2 separate regions of the Homo sapiens genome follow, and region 1 is linked to region 2. Evidence: fine-mapped expression QTL. A gene starts in region 2. The other region holds a variant in brackets. All regions are shown on one strand. Distances are between the middles of the regions.

What was found.
Region 1: its variant is fine-mapped to the expression of ATP1A1 in whole blood (TOPMed, PIP above 0.99).

Annotation. Positions count from the first base shown.
Region 1 is chr1:116,390,512-116,398,845 of GRCh38, reverse strand. It overlaps ATP1A1 (ATPase Na+/K+ transporting subunit alpha 1), which reads right to left. Exons shown (of 23, transcript NM_000701.8): 10 at 7,955-8,064; 11 at 5,858-5,992; 12 at 5,123-5,315; 13 at 3,561-3,736; 14 at 2,112-2,248; 15 at 808-958; 16 at 57-225. It overlaps ATP1A1-AS1 (ATP1A1 antisense RNA 1), which reads left to right. Exons shown (of 3, transcript NR_027646.1): 3 at 5,820-5,981. Among named protein-coding and RNA genes, the nearest start is that of ATP1A1, 21 kb to the right of the region's middle. The variant T/C (reference allele first, on the strand shown) is at 3,659.
Region 2 is chr1:116,368,953-116,377,286 of GRCh38, reverse strand. It overlaps ATP1A1 (ATPase Na+/K+ transporting subunit alpha 1), which reads right to left and starts at 4,043. Exons shown (of 23, transcript NM_000701.8): 1 at 3,764-4,043. The coding sequence starts at 3,775. RefSeq lists an enhancer at 2,667-2,786 and silencers at 3,157-3,456, 3,887-4,416.

The DNA of each region.
Region 1 (8,334 bases), 22 kb before region 2:
ATGCTAATGGGCAGTATCTGAATAAGATCTTGGTGTACACCTTAAATAGCTCTCACCTTCCTCTACTCCAGTCACAATTGAGGCAAAGTTGTCATCCAGAAGAATCATGTCAGCAGCTTGCTTGGACACATCTGAGCCAGCAATCCCCATAGCAACCCCAATGTCTGCTTTCTTCAAAGCTGGAGAGTCATTCACACCGTCACCAGTCACAGCCACGATAGCACCCTACCCCAGAAAAGGGAAAACGGGTTAATACCAATCACTTTTCCTAGCGATGGAAATAGTGCGATGCATGCCCCCACTGAGCACTCATTACAGACACTGCTCCTTTCCTATTGAGACTATTTATGAAGCCTGAGAACCGTCACAGGCAAGTATTCACACAGGCCCTACACCAAATAACAGAACTGAGAAGTGACAACAAACATAGCCCCCAGCATTAACAAGAGCTACTCAAAGTAATGACTCTGGTGGGTGGCACTCCAGAAAATGCCATTCCTGTATGCACGCCCTGTAGTCTGACCACTCACATCTCTATTGCAAATACTAGGACCCCATATCAGATGACTCCACGGAGCGGTCAGGCTCTGGGACACAGTGGACACCTGGACTTTAAAGTGCTTCTGTCACTGCTAAACCATTAACAAGTCACCCTCTCTATGCCTATGAGCTTCCTACTGGCCTATTTATACTGAGTCTAATACAGCGAGGTATGCATCCATCCATCACCGTTGCTCTGTTTCCACTGGAACTCCAATCCCTAAAGCCAATAGTGCCCAAAGCAGCCTGATCCTTGTGCTGGCTGACCTGTCTTTGGCAGCCTTCCACAATGATGAGCTTCTGCTGAGGGGAGGTCCTGGCAAACACTATCTCAGTGTGGTACTTCAAAATGTCATCCAGCTGCTCGGAGGTCATGTCCTTTAGATCACTGCCGTGTACTACGCAGGCCTTGGCATCCCTAGAATTAGGACAAAAAAAAAAAAAAAGTCACGCATCACATCACCAGCATGTGTCCATCACCTCAAGAGGGGATATTCTTATGCAGATCACTTTGTAAACAAAACAAAGAAGGAATTTTCCCCAGCACATAAAAGCTATTAAGTGTTCAGTACTTTACAGGTTACAGAGCATTTTCATATATTTTATCTCATTTGAGGCTCATGATGATCTCTAAGGCAGGCCTGTCTGTATTCTTCCTTTCCCTATCTTTATTAGACATGCTGAAATATAACCAAGTTTTAGCTGGGTGTGTGGCTCATGCCTGTAATCCCAGCACTTTGGGAGGCTGAGGTGAGTGGATCACTTGAGGTCAGGAGTTCGAGACCAGCTTGCCAAAATGGTGGTCTAAAAATTCAAAAATTAGCCGGGCATGGTGGTTGGGGCCTGTAATCCCAGCTACTTGGGAGGCTGAGGCAGGAGAATCACTTGAACTCAGGAGGTGGAGGTTGCAGTGAGCCAAGATCATGACACTGCACTCCAACCGGGATGACAGAGCGAGACTCCATCAAAGAAAAAAAGAAATATAACCAAGTTTTAGAAAGTGGCAGAGCTGATACAAGACCAAACCCTCCTCTAACCGTAACATAGGGTGAAAGGGCCCTAAACCTTAAAACAAAACCAATTTGCTATTATCTGTTTTACTTCATTGCCAAATGTCTCCTGTGTTTGCCTGAATGGCCTAAGTAATTGTCCCTTCCTTATTTTATTTTGTTAGTGTGGACCTGGAAAGTGTCAAGATGCTAGGTGCTAGGCAGTAGAGCTCAGTGGTTAACAGCATGAAATCAGAAGCTAGACTGCTGAATTTACTGCATGATTTCACCAGTTCTGAGGTACTTCAAAAGCCTCTTGAATCCTTACCTTCCCTGCTCTGCAAATAATAGGTCACCATATCAAGCTCTTAGAACAGTAAATACCATCTAAGTGCTAATTATTATGACTTGCTCTTACTTAAAACCCTTCTTAGGAATGACAAGGTTGCTTTCTGGCAGTGCAGGTACATTTCCTACTCAGAGCAAGCCTAGATGCAAACCATTATAGAACCACGCTGAAGATTTTAAACCATCACTATTTGCTTGTTCACAGCAGACTGTGATTTGAGCTTCCTGCCTTACCTGGGGTTCACCTGGCTGACTGGGATGTTGAGGCGGGCAGCAATGTCTTCCACGGTCTCATTGCCTTCTGAGATGATGCCCACACCTTTGGCAATAGCTTTAGCTGTGATTGGATGGTCTCCTGTGACCATGATGACCTGTAATAAACAAGACAATGTGTTGAATGCAACTGCCAAGTAAATGACCTTAAAGTCTTATATCCAGTAGGCAAGAGTAAATACTAAGGATGATTCGGCTTAGACTATCAAAAGGAAAGGAATGCAAATATAAAACTAATAAACATCGATTAGCCAAAAATATAAACATATATATCCACAGAAAGGAAACACAAAGGCAATACTCAGGTTTTATCTTGGTATACAATCACTAGCATACACAATGTCTATTTTTCCTTCTACAGAGTTACATAAAAATACTTGAAAATTACTAAAACCAGCAAAAAAAAAAAAAAAAAAAAAGGATAAAAATCTGATGCTGGTGGGACTGTGAAGACACCACATGCTACTGGCTAGCATTCTCAAATTGGCACAACTTGGAGGAAAAGCAACATGTGACAAGAATTCAAAATTGTTATTTTTTGATGCAGTGATTATACTTAGAATATACTTTAAAAAGAAGCAGTCGGAATGGTGAGGAAATAACTTCTACAAAGCTTTTCAGGGCAGTATTAATCCTGAGAGTAGGCCGGGTGTGGTGGCTCACGCTTGTAACCCCAGCACTTTGGGAGGCTGAGGTGGGCAGATCACCTGAGGTCAGGAGTTTGAGACCAGCCTGGCCAACGTGGCGAAACCCTATCTTTACTTAAAAATACAAAAATTAGCTGGGCGTGGTAGCGGGTGCCTGTAATTCCAGCTACTTGGGAGGCTGGGGCAGGAGAATTGCTTGAACCTGGGAGGCGGAGGTTGCAGTGAGCCGAGATCGTGCTATGACATTCCAGCCTGGGCAATAGAGCAAGACTCTGTCTCAAAAAATAAATAAAATAAAATCCTGAGAGTAAAAAACAGAAACCAAATACCCAGCAACAGGATATTAGTGCACTTGAGTAATATTCAGCTACTTAAAAAAAGACAGATACACAGAGGACACCAAACACTCATTAACAAACAGTTAACTGAAAACACAGAAGATATGCCATTCATTGCATAAGGTACATTAACTTAGAATAATGCAAGTATTTTAAAACTTCAAGTCTTTTGCTGTTTTTACTTTGCTTACATTTCTTTTTTACACAATTGCTTTCCAAAAAATTTTTAATTCCTCGTGTGTTTACACCATCATATTTTAATACTATCTGGTCTTTTCTGGGTGGAAGTAAAGCTTTGGAGATGAGAAATTAATACTCCAGGTGAGATAGAACAGCTGGCCATCTGGACCTCAAAAGGCAACATTCACTGAGTAGGGTGTCCCAAGGCACTAAGAGATGAAGCCAAGGAGGCGCCTGGGCACTACCTTAATTCCAGCACTTCGACATTTGCCCACGGCATCAGGAACGGCCGCCCGTGGAGGGTCAATCATGGAGATGAGCCCAACAAAGCACAGATTATCGA[T/C]AGGGAAATTCACATCGTCAGTGTCAAACTGGAACCCTTCAGGAAACTGTTCATCTGGCAGAAAGAGGTGGCAGAAACCTGCGAGGAGGACAGGAGCCTTTGAAAATTTCAGTGACGCTGGGCAGTAAGAAGGACAACAGCAGCCTATTCAGCCCGCCTACCTTTCTCTGGAGTGTTTACTTTGGAAAATTTTTAAAGTCTATATTTTTATAACAGAGTGAGGGTTTTATTTAACATTTATGAACGATAGAGTCACTGAAAGAAAAAAAGCATTTGAAAGACAGAATCCATCACACCAGGCCTCAAAGGAATTGGAAATTGTTTAATGTGGAGAAGACTGAATTGATAACACTAATTTTGAGCACCAGGATATTAGGGTTCTAGACTTGCCCACTGATGATGACATTAAGTTATTTGGATTTGGCAAATCATGGAATTATCTGCCTCAGCTGCCTTCTCTGGAAACATCAAGGCCATACCTCTGCTCTCTTGTTCATTTAACTGAAACATATTACTGAGCACCAATGTGGGACATCATGCTAGCTACTTTTGAGGATAAGTACAGATCAGATGCATTCTGCCCAGGGGGTTTATCATCTAGTATAGTAAATACAAGAATCAAGATAATGTAAGACATTCTTTTCAATGTTGTATGACGTTACAATGATCTTTAACGTGCCATGTGGACTCAAAAGAAGAGAGACTGCTTCCACTTTGGGGTGGTGGAAGTAGGGAAGTGAAAAACACTTAAAGAGAAGATAGCAATCCTTCGGTTGGATAGACACATACGAAAGATACCATGAGTTAGATTTACCCAAGTTAAGAAGAATAGGAAGCATTATATAAATAATGAATGTAGTATCTGTCAACCTACAAAGTATTATAAATGCCACTTTCCCAAATACATTAGACAATGGGTAAAGTGAACTTCTCAGCCTCAGTAGCTGTCAGGGTAGAAAAAAATAGGTAGCATCTTAGACTAAAAGTTTACCGTTAGTCTAGTTTCTAAGCTGAGCACATAAGTGCTCATGTAAATTCACACCCATTCCAAGGCAGTCAGGAAATAGTATGTCTAACTTAGACACACTAAGAATTAATTAACTTTAATTAGGCTTATAAGTCATGTCCACAGCAACAAAGGTTAGATAAGAAAGATATTCTTCCACCATTTTTTTTTTTAAACAAACAGAACTGACTAGCATGAGACCAAAGGTCTAAGTACAAGTCAGAAGCAAACCATCAGGACGTTGTTTCTCACAGCCCAATACGCTGAACATTTCTTCAGCACTTATTGTTTTCAAAATAATAGGGGGCAAATAAACAAATAGGAGGATTGCCCCTAAAAGATGTAGAGGAAGGTCAACAAGACATAGAGGTTCATAGGATCACTTGTTAACTGTCTACCAGACTAGGTTACTGGATAAAAACGTGCCCAGGCACTCTGTTACCAGGTTATCTGCATACCTAGGACTCGTTCTCCGAGGCCCCCCAGCTCCAAATAGGCGTTCTGAAAGGCGTCTTTCAGCTCCTCATCCAGGGGCTGCTCCTTGCCGTGGAGGAGGATAGAGCTGCAACGGTCTAGGATCCTTTCTGGGGCGCCCTTCATCACCAACAGGTGTTGGGGCTCCGATGTGTTGGGGTTCTTATGAATAGACAACTGTGAAGGATTGTTGAGACATAAACATTGGATGGTTGGATGTGTGGCAGTCCATGGTGGAAAACAAAGCTTCACTTACTATTTAGTATTTGCTATAAAAGACCCAAGATCCCTTCTTTCTGAACTCTGAAGTATCTTACACCTGTAACATACTTTGAATGCTACAGAAAAAAAAAAAAATGAGCACTATGATATATTCATAAATTCCTGACATTTGTTCACATTAAAAAAGAACATACGAAATTTCAGAACACAGGGATTGGGGAACACTTGTGTACACATACCTCCAGCCACCTCCCCACATGCCCACACCCACCCCAAACCACAAGTATTCAAAAGGGCTCAACAGTGTTTTGCAAGAGGCTTCATTTATCCTGCTGATATTCAACTAAATTATGGCATTCTATGGTAATCAAGGGCAAAATTTAAAGCTAAAGCTTATAAAACTCCAAAGGGAGAATATTTCCTCTTCCTGCTCATGTACCTCCCCTCTTTGTCCCCCAGCTTGCCCTCGCCCTCCGTGTACCCATCGATCTTCAGACCTGGTACTTGTTGGTGGAGTTGAAGGGTATCTCGACGATTTTGGCGTATCTTTCTCTCATCTCCTTCACGGAACCACAGCACAGCTCTATGCACTTTAAGAGTGCTGACTCAGAGGCATCTCCTGCAACTGCCCGCTGTGAACAGAGACATCATCTGTAAATTATCTCCAAAAAATTTCACTGAGGCATCACTAAAAAACAGGAAAAATAACTCAAGACACATTCCAATCTTGTCAGAGGTAGCAGAGGATGGGCAAGAAGGAAGCAGCGGTGTTAAGTGGGACAGGAGTCCCTCTAGCCCCGACCACTGCTGTTCACAGTGCTTCAGACTCAAACCCCAACGTCCTTCCCCACCCCACAGCAGCTTCTAGTGAAAGAAGGGTGTGGGAAGGTGTCACCTTCCCTAGAAGAGGTATTAACACACCCTTCCAACCTACTGCAGTCTATTTCTATCTTCCCCTGGCCTACTGAAAAGTCTCAAAGCCAATGCTATTCCCAACTACCTACTTCTGGTTACTTATCTGAAAATACCAAGTGAGAGATTAAACATTTATAGCACCTTTCATTACCGTAGAATTCGTAAGAAAATGCTTAAGGTCTCAGGACTGGGGACAAGCTGCCTGTGTCAAGGGCAAAGTAGAAGACTGTGCATTCTAATCATAACTGTGCAAAATTAACTGGGCCTGAAGGATGTGAACTGAAAGCTATTACCAACTCCAACAGTAATAAAATCGAACCACGTAACATTTTAGTTAAAGCCCATGCTTCAGTGACACACATATTTTCTATGATACATGATGACACACTTATATTTTGACATACTGAAAGCATTTTCAGTTGTAAACAAATTTTATATAGGTAAACCTTTTAGAACCTTAACATGTAAGGCTGCATATGCAGATGAACAGATCAATGCTCAGAAGTATAGCAGCTCCACAGAGCAAGAAAGTTGGCTGGGTTTGGAAAGAAACACAAAATAAGTGGGGGACATTTTAAATAAAAGCCACTTATTTTAATAAAAGCCATTTTTAATAAAAGCAGAATAGGGCTGCTTCTCCCTCCCCGCTTTTTAGTAATAATGCCATCAACATGGCCGAACTCCAGAAATACTTGGAATACAGCTTCTGCTACCTTTCTGGGGTTTTTTAATCAGGAAAGATTTGATACTTGTGGGACCTGATGCTCAAAGCCTAGAACATTTCCACTTTGAGGTAAAGAAAAACATGAAACATTTATCTCAAGTTTTATCCTCAAGATACACAACATTATCCTCAAATCAACATCAATTCAATGCCAAGAAAATCTCCTTTGCAGAATAAATGAACCCTATCCTCATCACAGAAGGCATCTGAGTTACATCCAAGCCATATTCCCTTTGGCAACTTAGTTTATACCCACAACTACTACAGGCAGCTTCACAGAGAATGTGGGACCCAGAGAGCCTCACATAGCTTTCTTCTCCTACAGGACTTTGTACAATTCATGATCCTTCTGAGACTGCATCTTCACTTGGGCAGCATAGTAAAATCTCAATCATTTCAAACTGCATCAGAATTCCACAGGCTAAGGCTGGGCTTATTTTGGCCTGGAGCTTATTTTTACATCATTAGTAAACAAGCTAAGAACCAATAAGATAAGATAAGCTGAGCTATTTCAGGAAAATAAATGGCTTAAAGGAGTTACTGGAATCTACTGTATCCTAATATGCAAATACGATTATGGAGTCACTGCAGCCCTCAGCTCTCACTGTCCACTAGGTTAGGTGATAACATATAAACTCAAGAGTAGTAAAAGCAGATGAATTAGGTTTTTCACCAATAAAGACTGTCTTCCGTCTCCTCCCCTCCCACTTTGGTCAGATTTTTACTGCATCTTCCCTTTTTAATCAACCTATATGGAGCAGGGGGTCCTATAATACATCAGGATCTACAGGCAACACAATGTAAGTTACACACAGCAAAGTACTGCACAGACCACTCCAGGTGTTCTACAGTGAACAGTCACACAGACCACAAAGGTAATTTGCTACTTTTAACACTCAAATGGCAGTTCTCATGTGCTGTCTACATCCCTCCATTAGTTAACTCTTGAGCATACCTTAAGAATAGGTAGGTTTTCCTGGTTAGCCTGAAACACTGCCCTGTTACAAAGACCTGCAATTCTGGACAGAGCAAGCCAGGTAGCTGAAGTCTTGTCAAAAGAGACACCTGATGGAGGCAAGAAAACACAACAGAACAACAATGCATTAACTTCAAAGGCTGTGTTCTCAGTTCTCCTATTAAAGTCCCATAGAAATCTGCAGTGATACATCTCATTTCCCAATTAATGAAACCAATCACATTTTAGGCATTCTTCAGTCACGTTTGTAGGGCAATTTAAAGTTTCTACTGACATGCAAAAAATCAATATCCCATACCCTTGACTCTTCACTAAATGATAAAAAAAAAAAAAACAAAAAAGAAAGAAAAAGCTGCCAT
Region 2 (8,334 bases):
CAACTCAGGCTGGCACAGCACTCCTTCCATAAACAGAACATAGATTACTTCACTTGATCCCCAGGATGAGCATTCTATCCAAAAGCCAGATGAGAAACTGAAGCTTCAGGGCTTTTATTTTATTTTACTTTTAAACCTGTTTGTTTTTAAGTGAAGAAACCAATTTTACTTTACCATACAAAATCCTTCAAAGCTATTTTAGTTAAAGCCTTTCTTATTCTTAAGTTTAGATATATTTAAAAGAACATAGCCTGATTTGAATGGAAAGTCACTTATCTGTTCATTTGTTGCTAAAATAATCCGAAAACAATGACTGAGGGTACTGGCATGGAGCATGGATGAGTGCCAAGCCTATTGTGCTATAAGATGTTGAGTTCACTTTTATTTTTGAATGCAATTTAGGAATAACATTCCCAGGAATCTGTATATTTTAAGTGTTAGCCCTCATCTGGGCAAACATCTAACTGAATTTTTAAAGGCATCTTTTTTTTTGTTTTTTTGTTTTGGTTTGTTTTTTGGGCTCTCAGGTTTACCACTCTCTCCCCATCTTCCCAGGTTTAGGAGGCAGGCCTCTCCCTTTCCTACCCTCCCACCCGAAGGTGAGTCACTAGAGTGTTACAAGCTTACTGGCAGGGAACACTACAAATTAACAAACAGTAAGTTACCAAAAGGGGATACACCCTTATAAAAGGGTACAGAAAGAACCTAAGAAGCAGGGAACTGTTACACGCTGAACAACTGACAGGCAAAGGGTGAGGCACAAGTGCTCTCTCCACCCCCCAGCTCTAGGCACTAGTTCTTCCTGTAACTTGCTCCACTAGCTCCCGGCCAGGCCCGGGCAACTTTCCACTCTGAGGCATCTGCCTTACAATGCTTTAAGTCTAAAGTACTAGCTTTATAGCAGCCAGAGGAGCTTTAGTCACACTTTCAAGCTGAGCTCCAAAAGGGCAGCTGATAACATTACCATACAACCAGGATTTCTGCTGACATGTGCATCCCCCCTGCCACCTTCACTGGAACCTTTTTTCCCTGCCCTTCCTTAAATCACTACTCATAAGCTATGATTTATTTTTTCGGTAAATAATATTCAAACTAAATCCGGAATGCAGTGAAAGACCTGGTGAGACCCCCCCTCCTCATCTTTTACACACTTGAGAAGACAAACTTTCCCACATTTCTAAACAGTTATGGCGTGTACCTTTGGTGAGTGAAACAGTTGCCGGTGGTAGGCCTAGCTGACGGTTTAAGCCAAGTCACTGGCAATAAAACCCAGAAAGAAAAAAAGGGACAAAATCCTATTTCATCCAGGAATGATTCAGCAAGAGCTGTTCTTTCATTTTCTTACCAAATGCTTAGGAACTAGACTTTTAAGGACATATAAAATCACCTGAAATATCATCAAAAGCTAGGCCACAAAGGGTACTGAGGAGAGGAGGGGAAGAAATTTACAATGACCTTAAAAATTAGCTGCCGGCACAGGCTTCCTTGTTAGCCAATTATCAGCAGGGCTTTAGTCACTCTCCACCCACATTTTAATCCCCATGTGGAAAAATCCCAACATGAAATATTCTTCTGAACATTTGGACGCTCACAATAAGTCACAGGACAAACACACACACAAACACACACACAAGTAAACTAATGTTTAATGTATCAGAATACTCAAAATGCTAACTACCACCCAGCAGCCAAGCAGCTCATCATCCCAGTGTTCGCAGCTGTAATTTAATCTTGTGTTTGCTAGCCACTATACATTTTGTTGTAAGACATCTGGGTTTAAGCTCTACTAACTATTCAGGTGGGTTACCACCGCATCACTACTGTGCATGTGTGCCTGTGTGTGGTTATAAAGGAGACATCTAGATAAATGGACATAACTTAGTTACCCAAACCATCTCCATGGCCTATTAATTCAACATCACAAATACCCCGTTTCATCCGAAGTTCTGAGTTCTGTATAAAGAACTCAATGTTAAAGAGTAAATGCATGTTCAGGCTTGAGGCCACAGGCTGTTCAAGAATCAGGGACGCCTAGTCTGTCACTAGCCAACCGTTTGACCTTGAGCAAGTCACTTCACCTTCCTAGGCTTGGGGCACACATCTGTGATGTCTAAACCCCCCAAAATTAGCTCAGGAAGTAAACTTTTTTCTTTTTCTTTTAAGGCAGGAGAGACAAAGAATGAGCTTTAAAGTGCATGTTTACAGAAATGATCAAGGGTTTGACGGTGTGGTAAAAGCACAGGCCACTAACCCAGACTCCATCAGGGGAATGGAGAGGCCCTGTACTCCGCTCTTTGATGCCACCTGACCTGGACCAGCCCTCCACGCTGCATGCTTTTAAAAGCGAGGCGAGTTGTGCATTTCCACTTGTGCCTGTTCTCCCCACCAGGTCCAAGCCTTTCAATTACCTCCTTTAAAACTCCCTTAGAGTCCCCAAGGAGTGCAGCCTCCCTCTGCTCCCGACACTCTGTCTACACCCAGAAGCCTCAGGGCCTTCAAAGACCTACTCAGTGTCTGCACTGTGCTAAACCCTGGAGACAACGAAGTGGATTCTCTCCCATTTGTATTCTCATGACATGGTCACTTTCACCCCATGAACTCCGAGGTTATTCTGTGTAAATTTTTCTCAACTAGACTTTGGCTCATTTGGGGTCCAGGGCCCAGTCTCCTGCACGGGTAATAGCTAGGGGTAATCAAGTCTTCGCTACAGAAATGTAGGACAGCGGCGTTGTGACGATATTCCCACCACGCTCCGCGCCGCTCTCCAGCCCCAAGACCCCTCGTTTCCTTCAGGGACCGCCCTTTGGTGCTTCCGCGACGCTGGAAACCGGCAGAGATTCCTACCACCGTATTGCCTGCAGCCTCCAGTCCTTTTTCGGGTTTCTTGTACCCTGAGGCCCTGGTGGGTCTGCCTATCCTCCTTCAGGGCTCGTCCCTTCAAAAAAAATCTGCACGCCTCTCCCCACCATCGGATGACAACTCCAGTTGCCATCGGTGCATCCTGTGTTTACGGAAAGTGGCCCAAGAAAGCCCTCAAAAGTATACCTTAAAGGCCATCTTAGGGCAGTGAAGACACACCCTTTCTGGCACCAGCCCGCCCAGCCGGCTTCGCACTTAGAAGCAGCCAGTTTTTTCTTTGGGGGAGGGCGGCCGCCTCTGCGCGGAGCAAGCTAAGCCCCAGCGTCCCCAGGAGAAGGAGCCCCGAACCCGGAGGCTGCCCCCGCCGGAACCGGGGCCGCGGCGGGAACGGAGGCCCGGGAGGAGGCCCCGGCGGAGCGCCCCAGGGGAAGGGGAGGAGCGCGCCTTTCCTCAGGGCACGGAGGGCGGAGGGAAAAGGAAGGAGAAGGAGGTGACGGCGGTCGCAGGGAGGGGAGCCAGGCTCAGGGATGCCGGCTCAGTCCCGGGGCCGCCCCCGCTGCTGCAAGCCCCCTCCTCCCGGCCCCGAGGCTTCCCAAGCACCGCCTCTCGGAGCCCCCGGCCCGCTCGGCCTCCGGGGCGCGCAGCCCCCGCCCAGGGTCCGCCCACCCCCCTAAGCAATGCCGCGCTCCAGCCCCTCGGCGCTCCCTTCCCCCGCCCCCCGTTACTGCGCTCCCTCCATTTCCAAACTGCGTCGTCTTTTAAGCCGCGCGGCTCTGCCAGCCCACTCCACGCGGCGCCGCTTCCTCCTCCGCCGCCTCCCGCTGGCCGCGGTCGCCCTCCCGACTTCCTCCTCTTCCCCTCGAGGGCTCCCCGAGCCCCCTCCCCGGGCGCGCCGGACACTCACCCCCTTCCCCATGGTGGCGGTGCTCAGTGCCCGGCGCCGGGTCCTGTCGCTGGAGAATCAGAGAGAAAAGCACAGAGCAGCTCCCGGCCGAGCGAGCGGGACCAGGGGAGCCAAGTGGAGGGAGCTAGGGCTGCCGCGGGGCGGGAGGGTGGGAGGGCGGCCGGCGGCTCGGGCCGATGCCGCCGCCGCTGTTGCTGCCGCCGCCCGGGCTGCTACCGCTGTTGCCACGTGTCCGCCTCCTCCCGCCGCTGCTCTGCGCCCCAGACCCCGCCGCAGCTCCAGCCCGCGCCTCCTCCTCACTTCCTAAAATATGCAACCTGCGTGCTGGCCCCGCCCACGCCGCGAAACGTCACCGTTACCGGAGCAACCTGACACCGGCCGTGGGCCTGGCTCCGCCCCCTCCCGAAACCCCGCCCACGGGCCCGGACAGCGCCTGCTGCGGCCAGTCCTGGCTCCCGGCAGGAGGGCGCCCAGGTCTGGGACAAGCGTGTCCACCGTGTCCCGGGAGGGCTGCGGGGCGCTCCTGCTGGCTGAACAGCGGGGACTCGGCGGCCTTGGCCCTCCCACGCCCCTCCTCCCGCTGCCCTGCATGACCCGCCTACTATGTAGGGCCCAGGAGGTCCGCAGTGGGTGCGGTACGGTCTCGGAACTGGGCTCCCCCAGTCGCCGCCGACCCGGCACCAGAAGTCGTGGGCGGAACGGCTTTTCCAGCGCTTCGGCGATCTCCTCTGGGACTCAGGGATGCTGGAGGGGGCTGGCGCTCGGGTGTGATTGCAGCCAGCGCCTGACTGAGGGACTCCGCCCCTCTGTGGAATCCAGGCCCCGCGCCCACCTGCGGATGGCCTCCCCGGGCGCTTGGTGCTCTCAGAGTGCCTCCTGTGACTTGGGGTCCTCTTTATCCACTTCCCGCTCCGTCATAGCTGGAATCGATCTGAACTGGCATCGCCAGAAGTTTCAAGCGCCCTCCTCCCACCACCTCTCTTTCTTCGAGATTCCAAAATGAGAATCTGAAGGGCGACCAGCGAATTCATTCACGCTATTGTGTGAATGTAACCTGCTTGTCCAGTTTGGGGATTCTCTTTTTAGGGAAGAAAAACCTGAAACCCAAAGGAATGCGTATCCTTAGCTAGAGGAGCTAAATCAAGGGGGAGGCGTTTGAGGACTTGCCAGGTGCCTCTCCACGCCTCCACCTGTCACGGCAGCATCTCCAGCACAGCCTTGGGTTCTCTGGGGGGGCCCAGGAAACCACCACTCTCCCCGGAGATCCCTGGTTCCACTGCACTTTGGGGCTTCTCTGTCATTATAGCTTTTGCTTCTTAGCAAGAGGCTGCAATGGCTGAAGTTCTCCAACATTTTAAAAAACAAAGTATTATTAACAAGGTTTGCAGGAAGTCAAGTACTCTGGGAAAGGCCAGGATATTGACTTTCTAAGCAAAGGTTCCTAAGTTAAAGCCAACTCTATCAACTTCAAGTATTCATGTAGCATGAACAAACAAGGATATGAAACTGGAAAAAATGGAGAAGGAAGGAAAGAAAGGAAAAACTAGAAACTGTGTTGTCAGTTACATCATTAGGGTAATTCTCATCCCTTCTTACAAGATAGTTTCTTACACGAGTCTCTTCTCCTCAAGAATGTATTGTTAAAGGTTGATGTCTCCTACAGTGATCTAGAGACTTGGTTCAATCATTCTAGGCCATAGAGAGCAGAGGAATTGTAAATAGAATTCAAAACCCTGACTGCCTGGAGAAGAGCCCCCAAATTCAGAACAGAATTCCTTAGACTGTTAACAGAGGGTTACAGAGTGTTCGGGGATCCATCTCTAAGCTTCTAGAAAATGCTTTCTTTACATGCTTGATAGCCTCAGTTACTGTACTTTGTAAGATGCTTTTGCTTGCTAAAGATAGCTTGTTTAAGATTAATTACTCCTGGGCCAGGCACTGTGGCTCACGCCTGTAATCCCAGCACTTTGGGAGGCCGAAGCGGGCGGATCATGAGGTCAGGAGATCAAGACCATCCTGGCCAACCTGGTGAAACCCCGTCTCCACTAAAAATACAAAAAAAAACTAGCTGGGCGTAGTGGCACATGCCTGTAATCCCAGCTACTCGGGAGACTGAGGCGGGAGATTCGCTTGAACCACAGAATCGGAGGTTGCAGTGAGCTGAGATGGCGCCACTGCACTCCAGCCTGGTGACAGAGTGAGGATCCATCTCAAAAAAATAAATAAATAAAAATAAAAACAAAGATTAATTACTCCTTGGGCCCTGGTCTGAATGGGAAAAGTGCCGCGGCAACAACTAAATATATAAAGCACGGGTCGGAACAACGTAGATTTCTCCTGCCAGCTGATCTCCTTTTTCTCCCCTCATAAGTAAAATTCTCATTCATTCACTCAACAAAATAACCCTGATAGATCAAGGCACTTCCCTTTGTATCTAGAGCTATTTATTTGGCAACTGAAAATTGCTGAAGGTCCTTTCAGGAGGATCCCAGAGTTCTAGCTGTGTTCCGGTGTGAAGAAAGGGCAAAAAATATAAGAAACATTATCTTAAATCTGTATTTTGCTTTTGATGCCACACAGTAATTTCAGATGCACAGTGCCCTTGAATTCTCACAAGTCTTTGAGGTAAAGAAAAAGGTAAGGCATGACCAAGTCTGAGGCGCAGAAGGAAATCTCAGATATGAGAGAGACACCTTGGAAAATGGGTAAGCAAAGGAGGAAAAGTCCTTTTTTTTTTTTTTTTTTAAGAAAAAGCCTTCTTTTCTTCCCTTGGAAGAGTGGCTTCTGAATGAAATGAAACCTTATAGATGAAACATCAAGCTCCCTCATTTTATGATGAAGAAACTGAGGCCCAGGGAGTAATTGGTATTGAATATTCCAAGAATAGTGGCAAGACTTTCAGGTAGCTTTTCTAACTCCAGTGCAGGGGACAAATTTGGATTCTAGAAGAGAGGGTGAAGAAAGCAAAGGCTCTCTATTCTGTCTGCTGCTTATCCTATCAACTCTTTTCAAGCTTCTAACTTGGGGCACAGTTAAACTGATTGGCCTGGAGACTCAGCATTTATAGACCTTAAGGCTGCCAAGTATGGATAGCTTCGAGGAGAATTTGATCACAACTGTGGATGGTTGCTCCAGTCATTGTGAATAGAGTCAGCAGATGTATGAAAAATATGATGCAAGTCAGTTTTTTGAGCCAAGAACGCTAGCACTTTGAGTATTTGCTGAATTGAATAAACACATCATTGCAATTAAAGGCTTTAAAATATGAGTTGGAGCCCACACCAACTTAGCATTTTCCATAGGACACAAAAATTTTGGGGATCTATGAGCTAGAGATCTGGAAGGACAGAATTTTCTTTGGCTTTGTGTGCTCCCGAGTTAGCATGGAAACAGTCATAAGCATGCATCTTTATCCTTTACCTATTTCCCACATTATCCAGAATTTTCCACGTTACCCAGAAAGCCACTCTTGCTGCTTTAAAGTCAACTGTCTTCATCATTCAAAGTTCCCCCTAGCCATTATCTGTGCCTCCATTGCAAATCTCTGTGCCTCCATTGCAAATCTATTTCCTTTTCTTCTGTTCAGCAGCAGACATATCACCTGTCTTTAAAAGCACAGTTCTGGGTGCATTGCTGACTATCAAAATCTGTCAGCAAATAATTCTGACTCCTATAACTTTTCCTCCCAGACTCTCCATTCTTACCTTTTTTTTGGTTTGTTTTTTTTGAGATGGAGTCTTACTCTTTTGTCCAGGCTGAAGTGCGGTGGTGTAATCTCGGCTCGCTACAACCTCTGCCTCTCGGGTTCAAGGAATTCTTGTACCTCAGCCTCCTGAGTAGCTTGGATTACAGGCACGCACCACCGTGCCAGGCTAATTTTTGTATTTTTAGTAGAGACAGGGTTTCACTATGTTGGCCAGGCTGTTCTCGAATTCCTGACATCAAGTGATCTGCCTGCCTCAGCCTCCCAAAGTGCTGGGATTACAGGTGTGAGCCACCACGCCGAGCCATTTCTTTCTTTCTTTTTTTTTTTCTTTGTTTTGAGACGGAGTCTCGCTCTATCGCCCCAGAATGGAGCGCAGCCGAGCCATTTCTTTCTTTCTTTTTTTTTTTCTTTGTTTTGAGACGGAGTCTCGCTCTATCGCCCCAGAATGGAGTGCAGTGGCGCGATCTCGGCTCACTGCAAACTCCGCCTCCTGGTTCAAGCGATTCTCCTGCCTCAGCTTCCTTAGTAGCTGGGACTACAGGCGCCTGCCACCACACCTGGCTAATTTTTTGTATTTTTAGTAGAGACTGGGTTTCACCGTGTTAGCCAGGATGGTCTCGATCTGCTGACCTCGTGACCTGCCCGCCTCTGCCTCCCAAAGTGCTGGGATTGCAGGTGTGAGCCACCGCGCCCGGCCCCCGAGCCATTTCTTAATCCTTTTGAAAGCTCCTTAGTATTCTTTTAAACATATTTTCTCCTGTTAGTGGTGGTTGAAGACTTCAGGTTGTGCCTCTGGGAAACTGGGAAATTTGAAAGAGTCTGCATTTACTTGGTAACTATTGTAGGTTATCACCAACCACAACAG